Homo sapiens: one gene and its partners. The protein of the gene in region 5 purifies or fractionates together with the protein of the main gene of each other region. This does not show direct contact. Each region holds a gene or a part of one and is shown on either strand. Other genes may lie near its edges. The genes, in order: EVPL, FLG, PLG, F2, P2RX6, ITIH2 and PKP1.

Region 1 (3,500 bases), on a different chromosome or scaffold from region 5:
GCCAGGAGAATTGCTTGACACCAGTAGTTCCAGACCAGCCTGGGCAACATAGCAAGACCCTGTCTCTATACAAATAGATACATCTCTATCAAAATAAATAAATAAATAAAATTTTATGGGGATGAGGTGGGGGGAAATTAAATAAAATATTTCTTAAAAGGCTCTTTAGGAGAATAATAATGAAAAAAAAAACGGTTGAGAAACCCTGATATAATATGCAACTGGGATTTGGGGGCAGATAATGTTTCATACATTTTCCTATAGAACCACAAGACTGTGATCACACACGTTGACAAAAATTCCGTCAAAGCACCTGGAATGCTTCTTTAAAGCACAGCTTCTTCTCCGGGGCTGGGACAAGTGCAGCTCCAATACCCTCTGTCCCAGCAAGAAAGACTTCAGGTGCTGGAGGGAGGCAGGTGACGGTGCCCTTCATTTGTGCAGGAAGGACGAAGACCAAGTGTTTTATGACCCACTTAAAAAAATTAAGTTCAGTGCACAAATAAGACCCCATTTGCAAGAGCACACCAGTGATAAAAGGTCCTGCCGCCTGGGTAGGAAAAAGAAAGACCGACCAGAGTAGGGGAGAGTGACAGTTTAGGTTTAGCTGGTTTAAGTTTAGCTGGTTTAGGTTTATCTGGTTTAAGTTTATCTGGTTTGTGTTTAGCTGGTTTAGGTTTATCTGGTTTAAGTTTATCTGGTTTGTGTTTAGCTGGTTTAGGTTTAGCTGGTTTAGGTTTATCTGGTTTAAGTTTATCTGGTTTGTGTTTAGCTGGTTTAGGTTTAGCTGGTTTAGGTTTATCTGGTTTGTGTTTGGCTGGTTTAGGTTTAGCTGGTTTCGGTTTAGGTGGTTTGTGTTTAGCTGGTTTAGATTTAGCTGGTTTAAGTTTAGCTGGTTTAGGTTTACCTGGCTTAGGTTTTTCTGGTTTAGGTTTAGCTGATTTGTGTTTAGTTGGTTTAGGTTTAGCTGGCTTAGCGGTTACTGGTTTAGTTTAGCTGTTTCACATTTATCTGGTTTGTGTTTAGCTGGTTTGTGTTTAGCTGGTTTAGGTTTAGCTGCTTTGTGTTTAGCTGGCTTAGGTTCAGCTGGTTTGTAGGGTCAGTGGGCAGCAGGTTGCACGAGGCTCTGCCCTTGACCACCCAGTGAACTCAGTTCCAGGAAGAGGCCGACTCAGTCAGCCAGACCCTGGCGAAGCTCAACTCCAACTTGGATGCCAAGTACAGCCCTGCACCTGGGGGCCCCCCTGGCGCCCCCACAGAGCTGCTGCAACAGCTGGAGGTGAGACAACCCCACCAGGCCGTCTGCACCCCACTTCTGGGAATTGGTCCTGTCCATTTTTCTGGGCCTCACCCCTTCTGCCTTGGTACCTAGTCCTATCCCAAGCCCTGGCCTGGGTGCTGGCAGGGGGGTTTACTCTAGCAGGAGGCTGGCCAGGTACCAGCAAGCTCCTCCCACTTCTGGACGTCAGTTTCCTCATTTGCAGTGGGACAAGGGCAGCCTGGGAGAGCTCTGAGGCCTGTCTAGCTTCTGCTTGGTGGCCTGGGTGATGCTGTGCCATCCCCCTCCCTGCAACTAGCAGATCCCAGGATCCTAGGTCCCCCAGAGAGGGGCTCCTTTTACTTTGCTGACTTAGAGACCCCTGCCTTCATGAAGGCCAGCCTCTAGGCCTTTTGAAGGACAGGTATGGTGTGGCCAGCCTCCAATGCAGCCTGGCCTGAGTCCCCCACTGCCTGGGCCCCCGGCAGGCAGAGGAAAAACGGCTGGCCGTCACCGAGAGGGCCACTGGGGACCTGCAGCGGCGAAGCCGGGATGTGGCCCCTCTGCCACAGCGAAGAAACCCCCCTCAGCAGCCCCTGCACGTGGACAGCATCTGCGACTGGGACTCAGGAGAAGTGCGAACTCCCCCACCTCACCCCTGCCACCATCCAGCCCCGCCCAACCCATCCCCTGCCCCTGCCCAAGCCCATCCCTGCTCCATCCCCAGCTGTCTCCTGCGCCCACTTTTGCCCTACTCCTTCCCTTGACTCAGACCCTCCTCTCTCCAAGTCCTGTCCTGCCTCTTTTCTACCCCAGCACCTCCCACCCTACTCTTGTCCCTGTTCCAGCTGCTGTCCCCATTTGTCTCTGTCCCCAGCCCCTACTCTGCCCTGGCCTTGGCCCCCTGCCCCTGAGCCCTCAGGAGCTGCTCCCTTTCTGTGCCCCCAGGTGCAGCTGCTGCAGGGTGAGCGGTATAAGCTGGTAGATAACACTGACCCGCACGCCTGGGTCGTGCAGGGCCCTGGCGGGGAGACCAAGCGTGCTCCCGCCGCCTGCTTCTGCATCCCAGCACCAGACCCTGATGCTGTGGCCAGGGCCTCCCGGTAGGTCTGTGTAGGGATACTCAGGGGCAGGCTGTGGGCAGAGCAGGCCGGCCCTGCGGTGTCCAAGCCCATGGCCCAACAGACCCCTGCTCAAAGGCTGGCCTTCACCTGAAGCTGCGTCTACTGGGGCTGGGGAGGGAGAGAGGCAGAGTGGGGACCTCTTTCTTCAATCTCCTCTTCATTCTAGGCTGGCCTCAGAGCTGCAGGCCCTGAAGCAGAAATTGGCCACAGTCCAGAGCCGCCTGAAGGCCAGTGCTGTGGAGTCTCTTCGGCCCAGCCAGCAGGGTACCCAGGGTGGCCCGGGGAGAGGTGGCTGTGGGGCTAGAAGGAGTAGATTCCGACTTCCGACTGGTCTGTGATGGGCAGGGGTCGCCTTGGGTTAGGGACCATCACTCTGGGGATTTCATCTCTGGGGTGGCCCTGCCCATCCCCTCCACCCTACCCCGACAGGACCCTCTGTGGGCACCTGGTGGGGGCACCTATCTGGCAGTCTGGAGATAGGCCCTGGGCCCTCACCAGCACCTCTGCCCCCAGCTCCATCTGGCTCAGACCTGGCCAACCCACAGGCCCAGAAGCTCCTGACACAGATGACCCGGCTGGATGGAGACCTGGGACAGATAGAGAGGCAGGTGCTGGCCTGGGCGCGGGCCCCGCTGAGCCGCCCCACACCCTTGGAGGACTTGGAGGGCCGCATCCACAGCCATGAGGTGGGTGAGCAGCGGGAAGGGGCGGCTGGGATGAGAAGCGGCCCGGCCCTGGTGCTCACACTTGAGGGAGGTGAGGCAAGTGCAGGAGCGGTGGCTGGGATGGAGATGGAGAAGGGTGTGGACAGACCCGGGCTCAGACAAGCTGGTTCCCCTCCTGGCTCCTCCACTGACCAGCTCCAGGATCTTGGACTACATAACTCTCTGGGCCTTGGTTTCCTCATCCCTGAAGCAGATGTAATAATGCCCAGCTCGCCTGATCATTCAGGAAGGTTCCAGTAGGGCCCAATGTCAACACCCCAGGAGGTATTCTGGTGAAGCTCCTGAAATAGCAAGGAAGCCTGGAGAATCTTAGGAAGAGATGTCCCCTGGCTGCAAGGGGGAGCCTACCTGGGGAGGTTGCAGCATTGTGTAAACTCCTTACCCAAGAACAGC
Region 2 (3,287 bases), on a different chromosome or scaffold from region 5:
GTCTGCTGACTGCTGGTGGCGGGATCCGTGTCTCTCTCCTGGACTTGATCTTGCCTGTTCATGGGATGATGCAGCCTGTCCACCAGAGGAAGTCTCTGCGTGACGAGTGCCTGATTGTCTGGAGCGGTCTGCAGAGTGCCCGTGACCGGCTCTGTCTTCGTGATGGGACCTGGGGTGTCTGGAGCCGTGCCTTGACTGCTCCTGAACAGATCCACGATGGTTTCTGGAAGCAGACCCAGACCACCTCTCAGAGTCTTCTGAATGTCCCTCACTGTCACTGTCCTGGCTCACACTGGATCCCTGGCGCCTGCTTCTCCTGGACCCCTCTGATTGTCCCTGGACTGCCTGTGAGTGTCTAGAGATGTCGGCATGAGTGGAAGCTTCATGGTGACGTGACACTGAGTGCCTGGAGCTGTCTCCTGATTGTTCCTCATTACGTGTTGTTCTGCTTGCACTTCTGGATCCTGACTGCCCACGGGAGGCATCAGACCTTCCCTGGGATGTGGTGTGGCTGTGATGGGACCCTGAGTGTCCAGAGCTATCTACCGAATGCTCGTGGTGGTACCCCTGCCTTCCTCCTCTGCTTGACCCCGGGTGTCCACGAATGGTGTCCTGACCGTATTGGGATGCTGAGTGCCTGGAGCTGTCTTGTGCCTGCTCATGGCGGGATCCTTGTCTTCCTCTAGTGCTGGGCCCCGTCCATCCATGGGAGGACTCAGACTGTTCATGAGTGCTCACCTGGTAGAGGAAAGATCCTGAATGTCCAGACGTTTCCCCTGACCGGCCACGTGCGGACTCTTGGTGGCTCTGCTGATGGGACCCAGCCTGTCCGTGGGCTGACACTGACTGTGTGTCTGAGTCTTCTGAATGTCCCTCATTGTCACTGGCCTGACTACCACTGTACCCTCGGTGTCCACTGTCTCTGACTGCAGATGAAGCTTGTCCGTGCCCAATGCCTGAGTGTCTGGAGCTGTCTGCTGACTGCTGGTGGTGGGATCCATGTCTTTCTCCTGCACTTGATCTTGCCTGTTCATGGGATGATGCAGCCTGTCCACCAGAGGAAGTCTGTGTGTGACGAGTGCCTGATTGTCTGGAGCTGTCTGCAGAGTGCCCATGACCAGCTCTGTCTTCTTGATGGGACCTGGGGTGTCTGGAGCCATCTCTTAGCTGCTCCTGAGCAGATCCATGATGGTTTCTGGAAGCAGACCCAGACCACCTCTCAGAGTCTTCTGAATGTCCCTCACTGTCACTGTCCTGGCTCACACTGGATCCCTGGCGCCTGCTTCTCCTGGACCCCTCTGATTGTCCCTGGACTGCCTGTGAGTGTCTAGAGATGTCGGCATGAGTGGAAGCTTCATGGTGACGCGACCCTGAGTGCCTGGAGCCGTCTCCTGATTGTTCCTCATTACGTGTTGTTCTGCTTGCACTTCTGGATCCTGACTGCCCACGGGAGGCATCAGACCTTCCCTGGGATGTGGTGTGGCTGTGATGGGACCCTGAGTGTCCAGAGCTATCTACCGAATGCTCGTGGTGGTACCCCTGCCTTCCTCCTCTGCTTGACCCCGGGTGTCCACGAATGGTGTCCTGACCGTCTTGGGATGCTGAGTGCCTGGAGCTGTCTTGTGCCTGCTCATGGCGGGATCCTTGTCTTCCTCTAGTGCTGGGCCCCGTCCATCCATGGGAGGACTCAGACTGTTCATGAGTGCTCACCTGGTAGAGGAAAGATCCTGAATGTCCAGACGTTTCCCCTGACCGGCCACGTGCGGACTCTTGGTGGCTCTGCTGATGGGACCCAGCCTGTCCGTGGGCTGACACTGACTGTGTGTCTGAGTCTTCTGAATGTCCCTCATTGTCACTGGCCTGACTACCACTGTACCCTCGGTGTCCACTGTCTCTGACTGCAGATGAAGCTTGTCCGTGCCCAATGCCTGAGTGTCTGGAGCTGTCTGCTGACTGCTGGTGGTGGGATCCATGTCTTTCTCCTGCACTTGATCTTGCCTGTTCATGGGATGATGCAGCCTGTCCACCAGAGGAAGTCTGTGTGTGACGAGTGCCTGATTGTCTGGAGCTGTCTGCAGAGTGCCCATGACCAGCTCTGTCTTCTTGATGGGACCTGGGGTGTCTGGAGCCATCTCTTAGCTGCTCCTGAGCAGATCCATGATGGTTTCTGGAAGCAGACCCAGACCACCTCTCAGAGTCTTCTGAGTGTCCCTGACTGTCACTGTCCTGGCTAAAACTGGATCCCCAGTTCCTGCTTGTCCTGGGCCCCTCTGATTGTCCCTGGCCCACCTGCGAGTGTCCAGAGCTGTCGGCCCGAGAGGAAGCTTCATGGTGACGCGACCCTGAGTGCCTGGAGCCGTCTCCTGATTGTTCATCGTTACGAGTTTGTCTGCTTGCACTTCTGGATCCTGAGTGCCCATGGGAGGCATCAGACCTTCCCTGGGATGTGGTGTGGCTGTGATGAGACCCTGAGTGTCCAGATCTATCTACCAATTGCTCGTAGTGGGATCCCTGCCTTCCTCCACTGCTTGACCCCGGGTGTCCATGAATGGTGTCCTGACCCTCTTGGGACGTTGAGTGCCTGGAGCTGTCTCGTGCCTGCTTGTGGTGGGATCCTTGTCTTCCTCCAGTGCTGGTCCCGGTCCGTCCATGGGCGGACTCAGACTGTTCATGAGTGCTCACCTGGTAGAGGAAAGACCCTGAACGTCCAGACCTTCCTGCTGACCGGCCACGTGTGGACTCTTGGTGGCTCTGCTGATGGGGCCCAGCCTGTCCGTGGGCTGACACTGACTGTGTGTCTGAGTCTTCTGAATGTCCCTCACTGTCACTGGCCTGACTACCACTGGACCCTCGGTGTCCACTGTCTCTGACTGCAGATGAAGCTTGTCCGTGCCCAATGCCTGAGTGTCTGGAGCTGTCTGCTGACTGCTGGTGGTGGGATCCGTGTCTCTCTCCTGCACTTGATCTTGCCTGTTCATGGGATGATGCAGCCTGTCCACCAGAGGAATTCTCTGCATGATGAGTGCCTGATTGTCTGGAGCTCTCTGCAGAGTGCCCATGACCGGCTCTGTCTTCGTGATGGGACCTGGGGTGTCTGGAGCCATCTCTTGACTGCTCCTGAGCAGATCCATGATGGTTTCTGGACGCAGACCCAGACCGCCTCTCAGAATCTTCTGAGTGTCCCTCACTGTCACTGTCCTGGCTAACACTGGATCCCCGGGGCCTGCTTGTCCTGGGCCCTGATGATTGTCCCTGGCCCACCAGTGAGTGTCTAGAGCTGTCGGCCC
Region 3 (4,133 bases), on a different chromosome or scaffold from region 5:
AGCAGTGGAGGCTGCAGCAGGAGACAAGCCTGGCTCTGAAGACAGCGAGCCCTCCAGGGAACATGCGGTCAGGGGAGGTTCTGAAAGATGACACACTGCAGAGCGCATTGGTTTGTATGCTGATGACAAGTATCCAGTAGGAAAGCAAATGAACAGATTTTCATTCTCAGAAAGGCCTGTCCTGACCTCCTGAGGGTACACAGAGCACAAGGGGCAGGACAGGGAGGTGGATGCATGCTCATCGATTCATGCAAAGTCCTCGGCCAAAGTCCCCCTGCTCCCCACCTCTGGGACTTTGTCCTTCCTCAATTTAAGACATTCCGGGCTGGAAAAATGGATTATTGAGCAGGAGTTGGCTGATGCATTCTAAAGCTAATCCACTAAAAAGCACTTGAGAGATATATCAAAAGATCACAAAGAAATAGATGCTTTAGGCCCATATCCATGTCTTTACCCCGCACTTTCTGCCAACTTGAACTCTCATTTTCAAGAAGAGTTGTGTTTTGGTTAATTCTATATAGCTCACAGTGTGACTTCAAAACACACAATAAATCCACAAAGTGTGTCCTACAGTGAGTTCAGTTAAACTTTCTGAAGAGTTTTTTTGAAGTATAGCAGAGCAGGCTACAACTGATATTCAAAAAAAGAAAACTTCCATTTATTTCCCCCTTCAATTAAGTTCTCTGTGTTATGTTACTATGCTTCATAGCGCATCGCTGCTGAGATCCCCTCCCCAGCTCATGTCCCTAGGAAATATCCCAAAACAGAATCAAACTTTTCTCTTTTCAGTTTGAAATAATTTTCCCCCATTTTTTCTTCTCTTATTCACCTCTAGGACTCATATGGCAATAGGATTTGATAGGGCTTATTTGCTGGCAAGGAAACATCAAACAAATCTTTTAGTGGAAAAATACATTTATATTATAGGCAAAATGCAGATGTATATTGCTACTGATGCAAATGTATTTTATTAATGGTGTGAGAATTTCTTCCTCACTGTGGTGTGTGAATGTGTATGCATATTTGCATGTGTAAAAGACTTAATTTGTGAAATGGAAGATGTTTCTCCACTTCCCACTAAGCATGGCTGTAAAAGAAACTTTTCCCTCTCCCCGGGCATTGCAGCACACTGGAAAGATGATACATCCACAGAAAACCTGGCTTTCCAAAAGAGCTTATGAGAGAATGTGCCCACCAGGTGGGTTAAAACATATGTTAATCCTGTGGCAGAGAAGTTTGATCTAGCCTTTGGGTGTAGCCCACTGAATAAGTTCATAGTGATCTATGTCCTAGTTTCCATGCATTGAAATATAATATTCATACCCCCCAACATACACCAATTTCTTACAAAAATTTCTTTAATTTTCTCCTGCTCTGTATTTTCTTTGATAGCTCCTTGAATGGCTTCCACTAAATTCAAATGTATTTGACTCTAAAGTGCAACTTGTAAAATTTTATCTGGTAATTTATAGATTGAATTTCAAGCGTACATTATTTACATGAAGAACTACTAGCAAATCGTATGATTCCGTTTGTATGAAATGTTCAAAATGGCAAAGATATAAATACAGAAAGTAGATTAGTGGTTGCCAGAAGCTGCAGATTGGGGGTAACAGCTAAGGAGAGTGGAGTGCGTTTTTGGGGGTATGAATAGTTTTAAAATTTATTCTGATGGTGGCTGCACAACTCTCAATATCTTGAAATCCATTGGATTGTATGCCTAAATGGGTGAATTCTATATGTTAATTATATCTCAATAAAGCTTTTTTTTTTTTAAAGAAAAAGAAGTACTAGGACATGTTTAGAATATTCTTTCAAAGGCTTAAACAAAGCTGAAAAGTGAGAAGAGCCCTAGATTCCTTCTGGGAAACCTGGCTTAAATCCAGTTTTCTTTATTTCCCAGATCTGAGAATTTGGTCACTGAGCAAATAACATGATATTCCTAAGTCTGATTTCTTTGTTTATAAAATGAGGATGAATATGCTACCCTACCTATACCACGAGCTAAATAAGCTAGTATTTGTAAAGGATACACACTCACACTCACATTCACACACAGGTATGTATGTATGTGTAAAAATGTAGGGACCTAACCCAAGCAACTGAGTATTTGTTGATCACTATCTGCACACAGCATCTGGCAAATGGATGCGTGTGATTTTTCCGGGGATAAGAGGCAAACGTATACTGATGGAAAGCCTTCCTCAGGCCATAACAAAGGGAGAAATGCTGAGTCCCCGACCCTGCCGCCACCATGAACTGGTGAGAGAACGGAATATATTCAAAGAGATATTTCACTGTTTTAACTTGCAAGTGAGGGGAGCATGACACCGTAACAGAGATGATATAAATTAGTCAAACTGAGAACCAGGCAAAGAGCTTAGCCGTCCTTTGCATAATTAGCTACATTGGCTCTTTTTCAATTAGACTGGCCATTATGTGGGTGCACTCATTTAGATTTGAAAAATCACCCATTATTTTCTCTGCCCATTCATTCCAGCACCCTGACAATCTTCACAGGAAACTTAAACTTATTTCTTGAAGAATTCCTCAATCTTATACAAGATTTTCAACTGGAAGTTTCATGAATCAAAAATTAAATGAATTGCACATAAAGCCATGGCATATGTATTTTTACTACATTGTGGGAGAAAAAATAATTCTTATAATTTAAAAAAACTATGTCTTACCTGATTTCAGAAATAAAAGAAGTAGAAGAACCACTTCCTTATGTTCCATTTTGGGACTGGCCAGCAGTGCCCAGAAAGTGGGTCCCAATCCCAGGATGTTGTTGACTTACATGAGAGTAAACGCATCCACAAACCAGATAGTCAAATTAAGTTAATGATTCTCTCAGAGACCCATGCCACTGGCTCAGCAGGGTTCAAACATTACCTTGAATAAAGAGTCCTTACAACATGTTTGAGGGTGGAATCTGCAATAGATGCTGGGAAGTGGTGAAAGCAATCTCCCCCCTCGGCTGCTCCACGCTGCCGTCATGTCTCCTTATTCCTTCCCTCACCCTTGTACTTTATCTCTCGCAATTAGTCTTATTTCCTCCCCTCTTCTCTTATTCCCTTTCTTTTGGAGAAAATGAAATCATAAAAGTATCTCACATTTGCTGGAACCTTCCATGACGAGACCCTCTGCCAAGCGCTGCACGTCCATAGCCTCCCTCAAGCTTCCCAACAGGCAGGGCTGTTCTCATTCCTGCTGTACGAGGGATGGGGCTGAGGCCTTCCCCAAGGTTGTGTCTCTACCCAGGGGTGCAGCTGATAGACAAAACCCCTTCAGGTCTTAGATGACAAACTTAAGTTAGGTGTAAACGTTAATATCTCTACATCCTACACCAAATGACATAGAAATTACGACATAAGTGAAAGTATCTTATTATCTTCAAAATTTATTTATTCCCAGTGAACTCACATGTTTTCTGTAATTATAAATTATGTTATAAGACATCAATCTTTCCCCCAAATGAACGTATGCCATATTATTATATTCTCATTCTCATGAAATAAAGCAAGACTGGTAGCATTAAGTGGAAAGCGTCTATCTCAATTTTAAATGTTGAATCTGTACTTTTCCCTGGCTTAAGTCTAGAGCAACCAGGTAGTATATATGCTGTAAAACTTCTATTTTAGTGTTCAAAGATATTTAGGAATAAATCAATTGACCTCTCTATTTTAGATGTGAAATAAGGACCAGAAAGCATTGTTCCTCTTTCCAGGCAGTGAAATTCCTGCCTATTCATTAACTGGCAAAAGAGTAGAGGTGGGAGCCCAATGGTCTTGGGTGGAATGTCCTGCGGAATTCCCTGGGATTGAGGAACCATGCAGAACCCTCAAGAAGAAGCCACACTGGGCAACAAGAGGGTGGCCCCATGTGAGGGACAGGGGGACCGAATCGCTTTTCCTGATTTCCTATTTTAGCCTCACTCTCTTCTCTCCTCAAATTCTTACCACTCCCTTTATCCTCTCTGACTCACCTCATGGCCCAGTTCATTAAAGGGGACAGAAGGTGGAGGCAGATTGAGAAACCAGCAGTGGGCAGACATTTTATTTTTAATGTGAAATGTCTCTTAGGGGGCTCATGTTGATGTGCTTGAGAAAGTACTCTGGGAAAAAAAAATA
Region 4 (3,500 bases), on a different chromosome or scaffold from region 5:
AGGTCAGGGGTTCGAGACCAACCTGGCCGACACGGTGAAACCCACCAGTCTCTACTAAAAATACAAAAATTAGCCTGTAATCCCAGCTACTCAGGAGACTGAGGCAGGAGAGTCGCTTGAACCCAGGAGGTGGGGTTGCAGTGAGCCAAGATCGCACAACTACACTCCAGCCTGGGAGACAAGAGTGGAACTCCGTCAGTAAATAAATAAATATAAATAAAAAATAAAACGCCAGTACTGAAAAGAACTTTTGGGTTCACTCCAAGAAACCGAGGCCTGGAAAAGGGAAAGGGGCTCTTGCAAGGCTACTTGGTATCAGAGCCAGGCCCAGAACTTGGCTTCTGCCCCTCAGCTAACAAGCATCTGGTGGCCCACCTGGCTGCCGTCTCCCTGTCGGGCAGACACACAGGGTGAATGTAGTCACTGAAGGCAACAGGCTTCTTCAGCTTCATCAGGGCAATGTCCCGGTCCAGGTTCTCCCGCCAGTTGTACCTGGGGTGGATGTAGATCTTTTCCAACATGGATATCTTTTCAATGTTTCGCTCGTACCTGCAGAGACCCCAAGAAAGAAATGGAGAAGCTGCAGGTTCACCCAGCAAGGAGCAGGAAACTGCCTGCCCTTGGGGTCTGGGAGACAGTGTGTCCTGCAGGCCACCAGGGAGGGGATAGGGCTGGTTCCTGCCATGGCAGCCCCCTGGGTGTTTCTTCCTGGGCCTAAAGCCGTGCAGGGCTTTGGAGTCAGACAGCCTGGAGGACGGGGACAGGGGCACAGGCTGCACGCCCTAGTCCAGACAGACTCTATTTTCAGAGACTCCCACATGGGCTATATCCTAGTGTTGGAGGGACCAGGAGACAGACGGATTTCTCCCCGCAGCTCCAAGCCTCAGTCAGGACGTGACCAAATGGGCTTTCCAGCAGAGACTGCTGGGATGTTATATTCTGGGGGGTATACAGAACATCCTATGTGTCCCGGAGCCACCAGGGCCCCTCATGATCGCTTTGGAGGACTCAGACCCCTGCCAGACACCCACGGGCCACCAGTTCTGTACCTGGTGCGGGAGTGCTTGCCAATGCGCACCAGAAGGTCATTCTCGGTGAAGTTCTTGTCCCAGGGCGGGTACAGGAGGCAGTGGGCGGCGGTGAGGACCCAGCGGTCACTGATGAGGCTGGCCCCACACAGCAGCTCCTGGGGACTCTTCCGGAAAAGCATCACCTGCCTGGGAGGGGCAGCAGGAAGCATTAGGAGCTGAGGATGAGGGGGCTGCCTCTACACCAGCCCTAGAAGTAACAATCCCAGGTCTAAGAACCCAGCTGGGCAGAGCTGCCTCCGGGGCCCAGATCCAAGCTTGGGCTGGCCGCCTTTGGGGCCTGGAGCCTCCGTGTGATGCTGAGGGGCTGCCTCACACTTTTTTATTTATTTATTTATTTATTTTTGAGACAGGGTCTCACTCTTGTCACCCAGGCTGGAGTGCAATGGTACAGTCACAGCTTACTGAAGCCTCAGCCTCCTGGGCTCAGGCGATCCTCCCGCCTCAGCCTCCTTAGTAGCTGGGACTACAGGGACATGCTGCTACACCTGGCTAATTTTTGCATTTTTAGTAGAGACGGGGTTTTACCATTTTGCCCAGGCTGGCCTCGAACTCCTGCCCTCAAGTGATCTTCCTGTCTTGGCCTCCCAAAGTGCTGGGATTACAGGGGTGAGCCACTGCACCTGACCTGCCTCCTGCTTTTTGCACCCCCTAACTAGGTCCTTCCAGTCCAGAGTTCACATAGCGTAGCACAGCTCTGGAATCAGAAGAACTGGATTCAAACCCATTAGCTGTGCGCGGAGGTGAGCCACCAGCTCCGTCAGTCTCAGCTTTACCATCTGCTTAGAAGTAAAGGACCCATGGGCCGGGTGTGGTGGCTCATGCCTGTAATCCCGGCACTTTGGGAGGCTGAGGCAGGTGGATCACTTGAGGTCAGGAGTTCAAGACCAGCCTGGCCAACATGGTGAAACCCTGTCTCTACTTAAAATACAAAAATTAGCCGGGTGTGGTGGCGCATGTCTGTAAATTCAGCTACTCAGGAGGCTGAGGCAAGAGAATCGTTTGAACCCGGAAGGCAGAAGTTGCAGTGAGCTGAGATCGAGGTAGTGAGCCGAGATTGCAGCACTGCACTCCAGCCTAGGTGACAGAGCAAGACTCCATCTAAGAAACAAAAAAAAAGAAGTAAACAACCCATCTCATGTGGCTGCTGTGTGGAGTTGGTGGGATCCTGGATGCTCAGCTGTTGTCATCTGTAAAGCCCAGGCCTGCAGGCAGGGCCTGAGGGTGGGGGTCCAGCAGCACACCTGCCCCCAGGAGTGAATGGTAGCGCAGGGCTCCAGGACACACCAAGGTGACATGCCGATCTCTGCATCCGAGCCCTCCACAATGCGCCCGTCGATGTAGGATTCCAGGAGCTCTCTTTCGGTTTTGTCCTCCAGCGACTTCTTCTCGAACAGAGGTCGCAGCCCACAGTCTGCAGAGCAAGCCAAGCAGTGAGGGGCAAGTCCTGGCCACCAGCCCCGCAGCCCCGCATCCCCTCGGATGCCCACTACCTCACCTGCCTCTCCCGAGCCAAAGGTCCTCGGATTGAAGAAAGTCTGGTACTCACTGGTGGCGGTACGCCCTTCGATGGCCCTGTCTGAGTCCTCATCCAGCCCATCTCCTGTCTCCTCCTCCACGGCCTCCTCTGTTGGGACCCAGGCACCGGCTGGGACTGGGCTGGGCCATTCCTCACCCATCCCCTAGATCCCCCCAATTCCCCTACGGGCCTTGGAGGCCATTTGGTGCAGAGGTTAAGCGTGCATGCACAGTTGGGCTACTAGGCAATAACCTCCTGGGGCCTCAGTGTACTTATCTGTGAAATGGGCACAGGACCTTACCCCCCACCTGGTTACTGTAAGGCTGTAATGAGCGCACTCAATGAGGTAAGCGTTCGATAAGCAGAAGCGGCTGTTGTTATTCCCACCAGGATTTGTCCCTGCAACTCAGGCCCCCTACCCAGGCAGCTCACCACAATAGTTGAGGTCGCAGTACCCAAAGTCGCCAGGCTTCCCGGCCACATAGCACCACACGCCCTCCTCATCCCCGTCTGGGTTGCGGCAGAAGTTCTCCACCAGCTGCACAGCTGAGTTGAAGTCCTGGTGCTTGCTCAGGGCCTTGGCCTGTGCGCTGGCCCAGGCCAGGCAGGGGAGCCCATGTGTGGTCACCGCCAGGCGCCCCTGGTACTGCTGCCCCCGATCAGGGACACACTGCTCCAATGGAGGTGACAGATTCACACTGGAGCCTTCGGAGCGTGGAGTCATCGCTACAGTGACTTGATCCTGGCCTGGTGGGTGAGGGGCAAGGAGGCAGCAGAGTGAGTGAGACCACACATGGACCGGAACAGACAGGGGTGTGAACCCCGGTCTTGCTGCTTTCTGCCTGTGTGACCTCAGGTTACTTAACCTCTCTGGGCTTCTGACCGTTTGCCTT
Region 5 (3,344 bases):
GGCATGGGGTCAGGCTCCCCACGTCTGCTAGGTGGCAGATCCAGGGAGCAGAGCTTGGGCCCCAAGGAGGCTGCCTAGAAAGGGCAGCAGGGTTCTGAGCATGGCATGCACCTGAGGCCTGCCTGGCACAGGCACCCCCACGGGGACACATGCATCCCTGCAGGCACTACCCTGGGGTGCATGCCTGTGCGCAGACTGAGGCGACAGCTGTTTCTGAGCTCGGGCCCAGGCTGCAGCTCTCTTGCTGTCTTTGCCCACTCTTCAAGGGCTTTGAGGTGAAAAGAGTGTGGCCCTCATGCTCCTACATGGGTGCACAAGTGCCCAGGCCTGTTCCAGTTACCTTCTAGCCCACCTGGTAGCTGCAGGGCCTCAGTCTTCAGGGGTAGGGTCCCCAAGTCCACCCTGCACCACCCCACTGGTCTCTTCATGGCTGTGCCATGTCTACCATAGATGCCCCCCAACTTTCCAGTCATGCCTGTAAGGACTACACAGGAAGAGGGTGGCTTTGCTGGCTTTACTCCGTGACTTTGTCCAGCCATGACATCAGCTTCCTCTGGGCCCCAAGGAGAATCAGGTGCACGTGCCCCTCCTTGGATACCCAGGCCTCAGGGGCCCTGCTCTCCCACCTTCGCCCTTCAGAGCCCACCTCCCCATGGACATGGCTCTGGAGATTGAGAGGCAGCAGGGACCCCAGGCATTTTACTGAGGCTCCAGGTGGCAGGTGATTCTAGATGTCAGCCCAGTCTCAGCCCCACCCCTGGCCCTCCACAGCTTGCCCTGATCACCAGGTACCCACAGTGGAAAGCAGCCCCTTGCCTCCCTGGGGTGGACACTTAGAATTCCCTGCCCCGCCCTGGGACCAAGAGGAGAATTCCAGCTGCAAAACCTGGCCAGCCTGAGGGAGATCTCGGTGGTGTTGTTTGGAACCATTCCTTCCAGCCACTCCATCCAGCCTGGGATCAGAGCCAGGGCCTCCCTCGAGCAGCTGCCCAGACAGCTTCCTAGGTATGACTTGGACTGAAGTGAATTTCAGATGTACAGCCTCCCACAGCCTCCCACCCCCAGGGCTCTCAGGAAGCCTGGAGGAAAGATTCCAAGGGGTTGGGCTGGGGGGTTACCGAGGAGGGATATAGAAGGTCCTGAAGAACCCAATGATCACCAACTTAGCCCTGCCGCCCTCTGCTCTCTCTCCCAGACCTCCATGGCAAAAGGGCTACCACTGGAAAGCAGCCGGTCCTCATAAACTAAGCAGGTGTGGGCCCAAGACACATGCTCCGCCCTTGCCTGGGGGATAGGGAGGTGGATTATCTGCCTACTCCACCCCATTCCCTAGATTAGGACTCTCCTGGGGCATCACAGCACCAGAGAAGCTGAAACAATCCCCCTCCCCCATCACTCCTCTTTCTACCTTGCCTTTTTGGCTCCAGCTGCACAGCCCCATGTAGGACCGATGGGAGGGTGGGGTCTCTACCTATGATGGGGGTGCAGATGGGGGAGGAGGGCCAGGACCCAGGCAGCAGGAGGGTCTGTGCTGACAGCTGGTAAGCATACCTCTGCTAGGAACACTGGGGACAGAGCACTGGGAGAGAGACCTCCAGGCCCAGACGCAGCAGGAGCCCCTGCCACATGCAGTCGGAGCCCTGCAATACAGGTGCCTGCTGGGCTCTCCCAGTCTCCACGGGTCAGGTTCTGTCGCCGTCTCAAAACACAGCCGACTTCTATGGCTCCCTGAGGCAGCACCCTACCAAGGTGGGAGTCAGGGGAGGGACTGTCTGCTGGGGTTCAAGGGTGGAATTCTACCCCCAATCCTCCATGCTGGGGCCTCATCCTTGAGATCCCCAGGCAGGGCCCCGCCCTTCCCAGCCCCCAACTCTCAACCAGCAGGGAACGGCTACAGGCTCCCGGAATGGGTTGGCAAGTGGGTGTCAGAACTTGGACAGGGCCATCCTGGTGTCTGTGTCTGACTCCCAGCAGCAGTGGCCGTGGGTGCAGGTGCTGAGCTCCGTCTGAGGCACTCGGCCAGTCGGGCTTGGGATGCAAGGGCCAGCTCCCTCCACACAGAGTTGGCGGTTGCTTTCGGGGCCTTGGCCTGCAGATGAGGACAGCAGGTCAGGGATCCAGCCAACATCTTCCTAAGTGTGGCAGAACCCAGGGTCCAAGCAGAGCGACCTCAGCTCACCTCCTCATACTTTGTCCTCCAGTAGAAATGGGCTTCTCTATCCACATACAGCAGTAGCAGGTCACAGAAAAAGGTGACCTGGGAGAGGCAGGGCCAACCCATGTTCCAGCCCCCGAGCCTGCTCTCCTGCCACCTCCCCAGCCTGCACCCCGAGACTCAATGTGCAGGCACCGGAGGCTCCAGCATGCATTGGACACACCCTGGTCAGCAGCACTCACTGCAGCCTGCAGGTGCCCACAGTGCTCGCACTCACCACGCCCAGCCAAGCTGCCCCGGTGCCCAGTGTGACGGCCGTGGGGATGAGCCCGAACTTCCCTGCCTGAGAGAGATCTGAGCTGAACCTCTCAGCCCACGACTGTCAGCCTCATGCCTCCTCCAGCCCTGTCTGCCTGCCCCATCCCATCCCCGGCCTGACCCCTACCTGTGCCTACCTGCCCGGTGACGAGGATGTCGAAGCGGATTCCATAGAGCTTGAGCAGGGTGCGGGCCTCCACACCCGGTTGCTCCCACCAGTGAGTGGCTGTCCTGTGGGCAGGAAAGAAGGCTCTGGTGACCTGCTTTGCCCACCCCCAGGTGGGGCTGGCCCTGCCAGACCTCTGTCCAACTTGTCAATTGACTCTATAAACCCCCAGCCCAAGCCTGAGTCCTGGGTCTCAGCCCTATGTAATTGGTGAGAAAACAGAAAAAGCAAACGAAGACCTGTCCCTCAGAAGTTCCCTGCCTGCTGAGAGGACGGGGGACAGAGGAGTCCCTAAACAGACCCAGCAGCGGGGGATGTGAAGGGGCAGGCTCAGGGCTGAGGGATTCCAGAGATGGGAACTCACTCTTCCCTGGGAACTGGGGTAGACTTCCTGGAGGGGACATGAGGCTGGGCCTGAAGGAACATGCACACAGGTGGTTTGCCAGCACAGAGGTCAGGGGAACAGGATGTGGGTGGGAGCCAGCCCCACGTGGTTTCGAAGGGCTGGGGAGGTTGGGGAAGCCAGATCAGACGGGGTGCAGTGAGCTATGTTGAGGGGCATCATCCCCAGGCCTGGTGGTCGTGTGTGCCTGCCTGCATGACGAGGTGACGCTCGGTGGCAGAAGGATCCAATAGATCTGCTTAGAAGACTCAAAGACATGATAATAAATGCAATTTATGAAACTTGAGGCCAGGCACAGTGGC
Region 6 (3,500 bases), on a different chromosome or scaffold from region 5:
TTCTTTCTTCACTGAGATCTGCACCCTGGTGTGAAAGTCCAAGAGGAATTAAACCATTCCAGAACAGACCTTTTGAGAAAGTCATTCTTCTCACCCCTAATATGAACTCTTCACTCCTCCCAGACAATTCCGCTAGTTATCTAAGCGCTTGCAACAGTTTATAGATAAATGATGGATTAACAGAAACTCATTGGGAAGCTTCTACGCAGAGGACACAATCATGGCGTTTGGAGCTCACTCTGCGATAGAGTCAGTATGGATTTCAGCTGGTGGATTTGTTCACTGATTAGCACATACACAGTGAGTGTTTACTGATGCCAGGCACTGGACTAGGTCCTGGGACCCAACGGTGACCAAAAACACACAGTGCCCACTGCCAGGAACAGAGTAGGGAGTGAGAACAATTTTTCTGAACCTCAACTTCCTTATATTTAAAATGATGATTTTTTTTCAATGTTGATGTCACTGATGCCTGGATTTATTTATGCAGTCGTGTGTCACGGACAGGCCCAAGTTCAGATGGAATCATACTTGCCTCTGATTCGTGACTTGAGCCGTGTCGGACCAGGACAAGGAGAATGTGCTAGAACCATGGCTCAGGGTGATGGTCTCAGTGCTGATTTCTATTTTTATGTCTTCACTTTGGAAATAAAATCCCAGTTTTCCAAAATAGGTGCTTAGTTTTCCATTGTTGGGCTTCTTGGCACCAACAAGCTGACCGTTGACTACAATTCCTACAGGAAAGAAAAAAATGATGTTTTCTCTTCTGTGCCATTTATTTTGCATGTGTGGGTACTATAATTCAAATTTATAAAAACTTGGCAATATTGGAAAATTATTATAATTTTGCTTCAAGATTTACATTAACATTTTCTTCTTTGTGATTCTCATTTTATAACATGTTAATATAACATTTATAAATTTTAATAAAATTTAATTTAATAATTTTATATCAGTTATAAAATTTAATTGTCAGTTTATAAAATTTAAATAATTGACTATCATATAGTATTTAAATTTTTTGTTGTTGTTTTTGAGACGGAGTCTTACTCTGTCACTCAGGCTGGAGCGCAATGGTGTGATCTTGGCTCACTGCAACCTCCACCTCCCGGGTTCAAGCAATTCTCCTGCCTCAGCCTCCTGAGTAGCTGGGATTACAGGTGTGTACCACCACGCCTGGGTAATTGTTTTTGTATTTTTAGTAGTGGGGGGTGGGGTTTCATCATTTTGACCAGGCTGGTCTCGAACTCTTGACCTCAGATGATCCGCCCACCTCGGCCTCCCAAAGTGCTGGGATTGCATGTGTAAGCCACCGTTCCTGGCTCATATTTAAATTAATTATATCACAACAAGATCTGCAAGTTCATACTCAGAGTATATATTTTGAACTATAATGGTTCAAAATAGTTAAGAATATATTTATAATTTAATTTCTCACTAATATCACTGAAATATATAGAACTTCTATTAAGCTGAGAAAGAAAGAAATCCCAGGCAGTGACAGGAAAGCATGACAATGACCTAATTGGTGCAAATATAATTTATTTTTATTTTACCTGATTCTGGGTCAGAAACCAGGTTGAGGATTTTTCCAGGTTCTGAGTCAATATTGAAACAAATGTTCTTTTGGCTTTTTGGTAGATAAATGATGAAATGTGGGTCATTTTCAACTGGAAAATATACAAAGAAAACGTAAACAAAATCATTAAAAGGAAGATGATTTTGAGCACTATGTCATTCCTGAACATCTTTAATTTAATCAGAACAAATATTTATTGTGCTTCTCCTACATGCTCGGTACTCCTCCAGGTCTTGGGGACCCAGTGGTTCATACTCCATTGTCCCTTTGTCACGGAGCCTTCTTCAGAACCCTATGTTATTTTACAAATATAGTGGATATTTATTTTGTAGCTAAAAATGTATGCACTAGACTAGATACTAGAGATAAAAAATGAATAAGAAAGACTTAAGGAATAAGAAATACACACAAATATGCACCCACAAATATAAGAAACATACATACACGTGTGTGAATATGTGTGTAGACAGAAAAATAGAGTTGGGTGTTTTTTGAGACAGGATCTCCCTCTGTCACCCAGGCTGGAGTGCAATGTTGCAATCATGGCTCACTGCAGCCTTGACCTCCAAGGCTCAAGTCATCCTCCCAGCTCAGCCTCCTGAGTAGCTGGGGCAACATCCATGTGCCACCATGTCTAGCTAATGTTTTGTATTTTTTGTAGAGATGGGGGGTCTCACTTTGTTTCCCAGGCTAGTGTCAAACTCCTGAACTCAAGTGATCCACCCATCTCAGCCTCTCAAAGTCCTGGGATTAAAGGTGTGAGCCGCCTCACCCAGCCTGGAGATATATTTTTTAAGGAGCCATATACAATGCAGGAAAACAAAGGAGACACACTATTATTGTTGACATACAGATTAATATGATTCAATTCCAAAAGCAATGAAGAATCAAGCTACTCCCAAGAAAGTACTCCTTTGTTATTGAACCTAATTATTTTAGATAATCCTTCCTTGCTTCCCCTCCCCTCCCGCTCCCCCATCCCCACTCTCCCTCTCCCGCTCTTTCCCATTTAACCATTCAACAAATACTTGGTGAAGGAAAAAAAAAATCTATGTGCAATCACTAAATTTGGCAATGTTTGGTGTTAACTATAAACATAAGTCATGGTCAGTAACTTCAAGAAAGTAATACTTTAGTGCAAGGGGCAGACATAATCACGAATGTAAGATAGAATGAAGTACATGGTGCAATAGTGGCTCAAGTAAAATGCTGTGAGAATGAAGATGAAAATGATTAGTGCCCCCCAGGCAAACAGCAAGGCTGAATGGAGGAGGTGGCTTCTGAACTGTCTTTAAGGTCAGAGGACAGCGGGGAAAGACAAAAGGCTAAGGAGGAAGAGATTTTATTCTGAGTGTACAGAATGAGGAAGGAGTGGAGGTAGAAGAGTTTATGATTTCTTTAGAAAATAACTCAATGCGACCAGAGGACAGGTTCTTGAAGAATGCAGAGAAAAAGAGCTAAAAGTAGAGATCACAGAGACCCTGAAACACCAAGAATGGGCCTTTATTCTGTTGAGCAGCTATTAAAGGTTTCTGAGAATAAATGTGACTTGACCCTCATTTTAGGAAAGTTGTTGGTGGCAGTGTTACTAAAAGTTTGCAGAGGAGTTACAGGAAGCTTGTGCAGTGGCTAAAGCAGTCACTCAGGCCAGAAATGTTCAGTTCACACCTCCAGGTTCATGCTCTGCAGTCCACAAATACATGGTTAGTTGATTGTTCTTGGAGCCAGACACTACAGGGCATTGTAAAAACACAGAACAGGCCAGGTGCGGTGGCTCACGCCTGTAATCCCAGCACTTTGGGAGGCTGAGGCGGGTGGATCACGAGGTCAGGCATTCGAGACCAGCCTGGCCAGCATAGTGAAACCCCGCCTCTACTAAAAATACAAAAAATTAGCCGGGTGTGGTGGCGGGCACCAGTAA
Region 7 (3,500 bases), on a different chromosome or scaffold from region 5:
GGAGTTGCTGGTATTGCCAGTGTGGCTGGTGAGGAGCCTGGTCACCTCCGGGAACACCTGGTTCCCTGGGAGAGGAACGAGTTGGGGCACAGGGTCAGGATGACTGGGGAAGGAAGGGCTGAGGGGTTCCCTCTGGGGCCACACTCTTCGATAGCCTTCTGCCGGGCTCTGAGCCAGGTGGCCCTCAGGGCTTCCTGGCAGCTCCAACTCAGGGCTCAGAGACCCAGATAGGACTTTTGCAGATCTGCTCCCAGCCCTCAGGTGACAGGCTCCCTTCTCCTGTCTCCATACCTGTCTTTGGCCAGCTTCCTTTCTTGGAATGCTCATCCCAGGGAATGGCTTAAAGGATGACCTTCAAGCAGGCTTGAATTGTAGGGAGCCTGCCATGTCTTAGCTAGAGGGGGAGGAGAGAGAGGGACCTTACCCATCACTCTGTGCAGCAGAGGGTGGCGGGACATGTTGCTCAGGAGGGAGGCTCCGGACCGCACCACATCAGAGTTGCCAGATTGCAGGAGGCGGGCAATTTGTGGCAGGCCCTTTTCCTTCAGCCCAATCAACTGGCTCATGCCACTGGACATCTAAGAGAGAAGGAGTAGATGATGAGCTAGCCTGTGGCTTCCCAGGCACCATGGCAGGCAGAAAGGGGCAAGGAGCCCCAAAGGCAGACATCCCAGAACCCTTTCTCTTTCATATTGGAAGCACTAGCTCACATGTGGGCAACTACAGAAACCTAGGCTAACATGCACCTCCCCTTTCCCAGCCCTGATCCTGTCTCCTGGATCAGCCTGCAGCCCAGATGGGTGGAGAGAGGGAAGTCTCATTTCCCCTACTCATAGTGACCCAGAGTTAGCTTCCAGAGTAACCCAAGCGTCCAATGCTGCTCTCTCACCCCACTGTCTCAGCGCTGCCCCCATTACATCTCCCCACGCTATCTGCCCATGTGAAACTATATGGTCAAGGGTATTTGTCAATTAAACATCTGGCCATCTTCTTCCAACTTTCCTACCTCTTTAGAATCCAACACATATTTGTTGAGGGCTTGCCTGAGAAAAGAGGGCTAAGAAAGGGTCTGGGCCCACATGGAGAGAGAACTGGGGTCCCCTAGAGGTAGGCCAGTTCGCCCAGGCCTCTAAGCAACATAGCTATCCTGGGTGTAACAGGTCTAGGTGGGTTTGGCATTCTCAGAACTGCCCAGCCTCTCTCCTCACAGCCAGGGAAGTTCTCTGCCCTCGGTCTACTCTAGTGCTGCTGCTGCTCGGTTCCCTTTTCCTAAGTAAAGCTGAAGAACAGTTGGCCGCCTGGCCCATCTCAACTCTTCTTGATTGCAACAGGTTTCCTCTGGCTCTGCCCCATACCACTGTGCCCTCCAAGCTACATACATTTGGCCTCAACATCTGCACGGATTCTGTCACATCTTCTCTGGACCTGCTTGGACCCCAAACCCTCTTTTTCCACCTTTGTCAGTTCAACAAATGGGAAACTCCTTTTGCCAAACACCTTCTCCGCCGCATTCCCCGACCTCAAGCAGAGCCCAGGAGGCCAGCTGGGGACCGGGAGCCATGTGGCCAAGGGGATTGTGTGTGCATGGACAGAATCCAGCATCAGTGGGCCCACCCTCTCTGCATCCCCCAGCAGCTCCTAAAGGGCAGGAGTGTTTCCCCATTGCCCAGCCCAGAGCCCAGCATATGCCAGGCACACTCTGCTCATGGGAGGCTCCGAAGTCAGGGGACAGGCTGGGGGGAAAAGGAGGGAGCAGAGGCTGGACGGTGGCTGGAGGATGGGGCTGCTGCAGTAGAGAAGGTACAGTCCCACTCACCAGCCCCTTGCTGGCTGTCAGGTTCTGCAGGGCACCAGCACAGGCCTCCAGGGTAGCATCTTTCTTGCTCTTGCCCATGAGGTTCAGGTAGGTGCGGATGGCATCTGAATGGTACAACCAGCCGCTGCCCTTGGGGTTGGTCTCTTCCTCAGGCAGGGGGCAGTCATAGTTGTTGTTCTGAGGATAAAGAGCCGGTCAGGGGGGTCAATGGGGAGCCTTGTGAGAGGACACAACCCAGGCATTCTGTCCCCATCCCCCCAGCCTCAGGGTCGTGGTTCCAGATAGGGCAAGCTGAGGAAGCGCCTGCAGAGGCAGGGGGCCCAGGACAGCCCCGCTGCACCCCTTTCCTCTATGCACTGCAGCAGCTCCATGGGATGCAGGAATGGGCCATGGTCCCCCAGACTGTCCCAGGATGTGGGAGAAGAGAGCATCCTGGCATCTTGGGAGCTGTGTTCCAGGGCAGCCTTGGCCCAAACCTTCCAGATATGTGGGGCTGCTTTGGACTCTCCCATCATGATGCTTCCTCCTCTTCCAGACTCAGACAGTAGGTTTGACCCACCCTGGGCCAAAGAGGGTGGTCTGAGACCTGGATTCCACAGCTGGGCCCAGTGAAGGAGACCTGACAACCCATCCCTGGTAGGCTTCTGCTTCTGGGGAAACCTGGCAGGGCTCAGGAGATGGTGGGAACCAAGGCCAGAAAGAGTGAGAGTTCTGGCTTTCCTCAGATCCTCAAGGGCAAGGGAGAAGATGGGGGAGACTTGACCCACTATACAGGAAGAAAGACCAAGGCCTGCAAACAGAAGGCTGGAGTTTTTGACCTCTAAGGTGGTCTGAGCCCCTACAGTTCCAAGAACAGATTCCCCCTTGTGCAAGATGAATGGCCTCTACCCAGCTCCCAGAGTGCACCCTGAGCCCCAGGCCAAGGTGTCAGCATGGGCCTGTCCCTTAGGGCTGGCTTCAGGCTCCAGGAGGGCCCAGAGGAAAGGGCAGATGAGGCAGTGGCTCCTGGGGGGGTGCTTGATGGGGCAGGCCCCGCCCTGCTGATGCTGTGCTCACCATCATCTTGTCGCTCTTGTTGCTGAAGCAGCCAGTGGAGGACTTCTCGGTGTAGGCGTTGCGGGCGTTATACTCCAGCTGGCGGTAGCGGGTGGGCACCTCGGCGTCCAGGCGGTAGGAGAGGTTGTGCAGAACACACATGCAGTTTTCCACAGACTGGGGACCAAGGAGAGGCATGGGCCTGAGCCTCTGCCCGGCCCGACAGGCTCCTGGCCTACCACCTACCCTAGCTAATAAGAGAGCAGAGGCACCTGGGCTGCATCGGGAAAGATGAGCGCAGGCACCACCACACTATCAGCCTGGGAAGTCTTCCAGGGCCACCTCTGGGACCTGAGTTTGAATCTGTCATTTCCTGGCTGCATGAACTTGACTGGCCTCACTTCTCTGGGCCTCAGCTATCTCAAATGTAAAATGAGACTACAATTGTCCATTTCACTAGGCTATTTGGAAGATGATACAGAGAAAGCACTTATCACAGGGCCTAGTGTGTGGTAGGACTGCTATGGACAACATGCCAATGGGCAGACTGGGATATTGAAGAATGTGTCTTTTTTTTTTTCCAGAACAAACTCCTCCAGAAGAAGCCCCATGCCTCTAGATTCCAAAGCCATCTAGTGCCCCCATCATT

What was found.
Region 1: the proteins of P2RX6 (region 5) and EVPL purify together in Homo sapiens (affinity purification with mass spectrometry; one large-scale study listed by BioGRID and IntAct). This does not show direct contact.
Region 2: the proteins of P2RX6 (region 5) and FLG purify together in Homo sapiens (affinity purification with mass spectrometry; one large-scale study listed by BioGRID and IntAct). This does not show direct contact.
Region 3: the proteins of P2RX6 (region 5) and PLG purify together in Homo sapiens (affinity purification with mass spectrometry; one large-scale study listed by BioGRID and IntAct). This does not show direct contact.
Region 4: the proteins of P2RX6 (region 5) and F2 purify together in Homo sapiens (affinity purification with mass spectrometry; one large-scale study listed by BioGRID and IntAct). This does not show direct contact.
Region 6: the proteins of P2RX6 (region 5) and ITIH2 purify together in Homo sapiens (affinity purification with mass spectrometry; one large-scale study listed by BioGRID and IntAct). This does not show direct contact.
Region 7: the proteins of P2RX6 (region 5) and PKP1 purify together in Homo sapiens (affinity purification with mass spectrometry; one large-scale study listed by BioGRID and IntAct). This does not show direct contact.

Annotation. Positions count from the first base shown.
Region 1 is NC_000017.11:76,017,307-76,020,806, reverse strand, and holds part of EVPL (envoplakin), read left to right. Parts: intron 1-1,153; coding exon 1,154-1,279; intron 1,280-1,746; coding exon 1,747-1,893; intron 1,894-2,206; coding exon 2,207-2,361; intron 2,362-2,548; coding exon 2,549-2,646; coding exon of another isoform or gene 2,647-2,712; intron 2,713-2,895; coding exon 2,896-3,068; intron 3,069-3,500. UniProt on the Homo sapiens protein: Component of the cornified envelope of keratinocytes. May link the cornified envelope to desmosomes and intermediate filaments.
Region 2 is NC_000001.11:152,304,953-152,308,239, forward strand, and holds part of FLG (filaggrin), read right to left. Parts: coding exon 1-3,287.
Region 3 is NC_000006.12:160,700,911-160,705,043, reverse strand, and holds the start of PLG (plasminogen isoform 1 precursor), read right to left. Parts: upstream 2,801-4,133; 5' UTR 2,740-2,800; coding exon 2,691-2,739; intron 1-2,690. UniProt on the Homo sapiens protein: Plasmin dissolves the fibrin of blood clots and acts as a proteolytic factor in a variety of other processes including embryonic development, tissue remodeling, tumor invasion, and inflammation. In ovulation, weakens the walls of the Graafian follicle.
Region 4 is NC_000011.10:46,725,713-46,729,212, reverse strand, and holds part of F2 (prothrombin preproprotein), read right to left. Parts: intron 3,355-3,500; coding exon 3,040-3,354; intron 2,716-3,039; coding exon 2,587-2,715; intron 2,503-2,586; coding exon 2,376-2,502; intron 1,218-2,375; coding exon 1,050-1,217; intron 550-1,049; coding exon 376-549; intron 1-375. UniProt on the Homo sapiens protein: Thrombin, which cleaves bonds after Arg and Lys, converts fibrinogen to fibrin and activates factors V, VII, VIII, XIII, and, in complex with thrombomodulin, protein C. Functions in blood homeostasis, inflammation and wound healing.
Region 5 is NC_000022.11:21,025,165-21,028,508, reverse strand, and holds the end of P2RX6 (P2X purinoceptor 6), read right to left. Parts: intron 2,705-3,344; coding exon 2,611-2,704; coding exon of another isoform or gene 2,601-2,610; intron 2,499-2,600; coding exon 2,433-2,498; coding exon of another isoform or gene 2,258-2,432; coding exon 2,180-2,257; intron 2,090-2,179; coding exon 1,892-2,089; coding exon of another isoform or gene 1,783-1,891; 3' UTR 501-1,782; downstream 1-500. UniProt on the Homo sapiens protein: May act as a modulatory subunit rather than a functional channel. Unlike other P2XRs members, P2RX6 does not seem to form functional homotrimers.
Region 6 is NC_000010.11:7,741,316-7,744,815, reverse strand, and holds part of ITIH2 (inter-alpha-trypsin inhibitor heavy chain H2 precursor), read right to left. Parts: intron 1,671-3,500; coding exon 1,557-1,670; intron 735-1,556; coding exon 536-734; intron 26-535; coding exon 1-25. UniProt on the Homo sapiens protein: May act as a carrier of hyaluronan in serum or as a binding protein between hyaluronan and other matrix protein, including those on cell surfaces in tissues to regulate the localization, synthesis and degradation of hyaluronan which are essential to cells undergoing biological processes.
Region 7 is NC_000001.11:201,321,506-201,325,005, reverse strand, and holds part of PKP1 (plakophilin-1), read right to left. Parts: intron 3,029-3,500; coding exon 2,873-3,028; intron 1,994-2,872; coding exon 1,817-1,993; intron 579-1,816; coding exon 425-578; intron 66-424; coding exon 1-65. UniProt on the Homo sapiens protein: A component of desmosome cell-cell junctions which are required for positive regulation of cellular adhesion.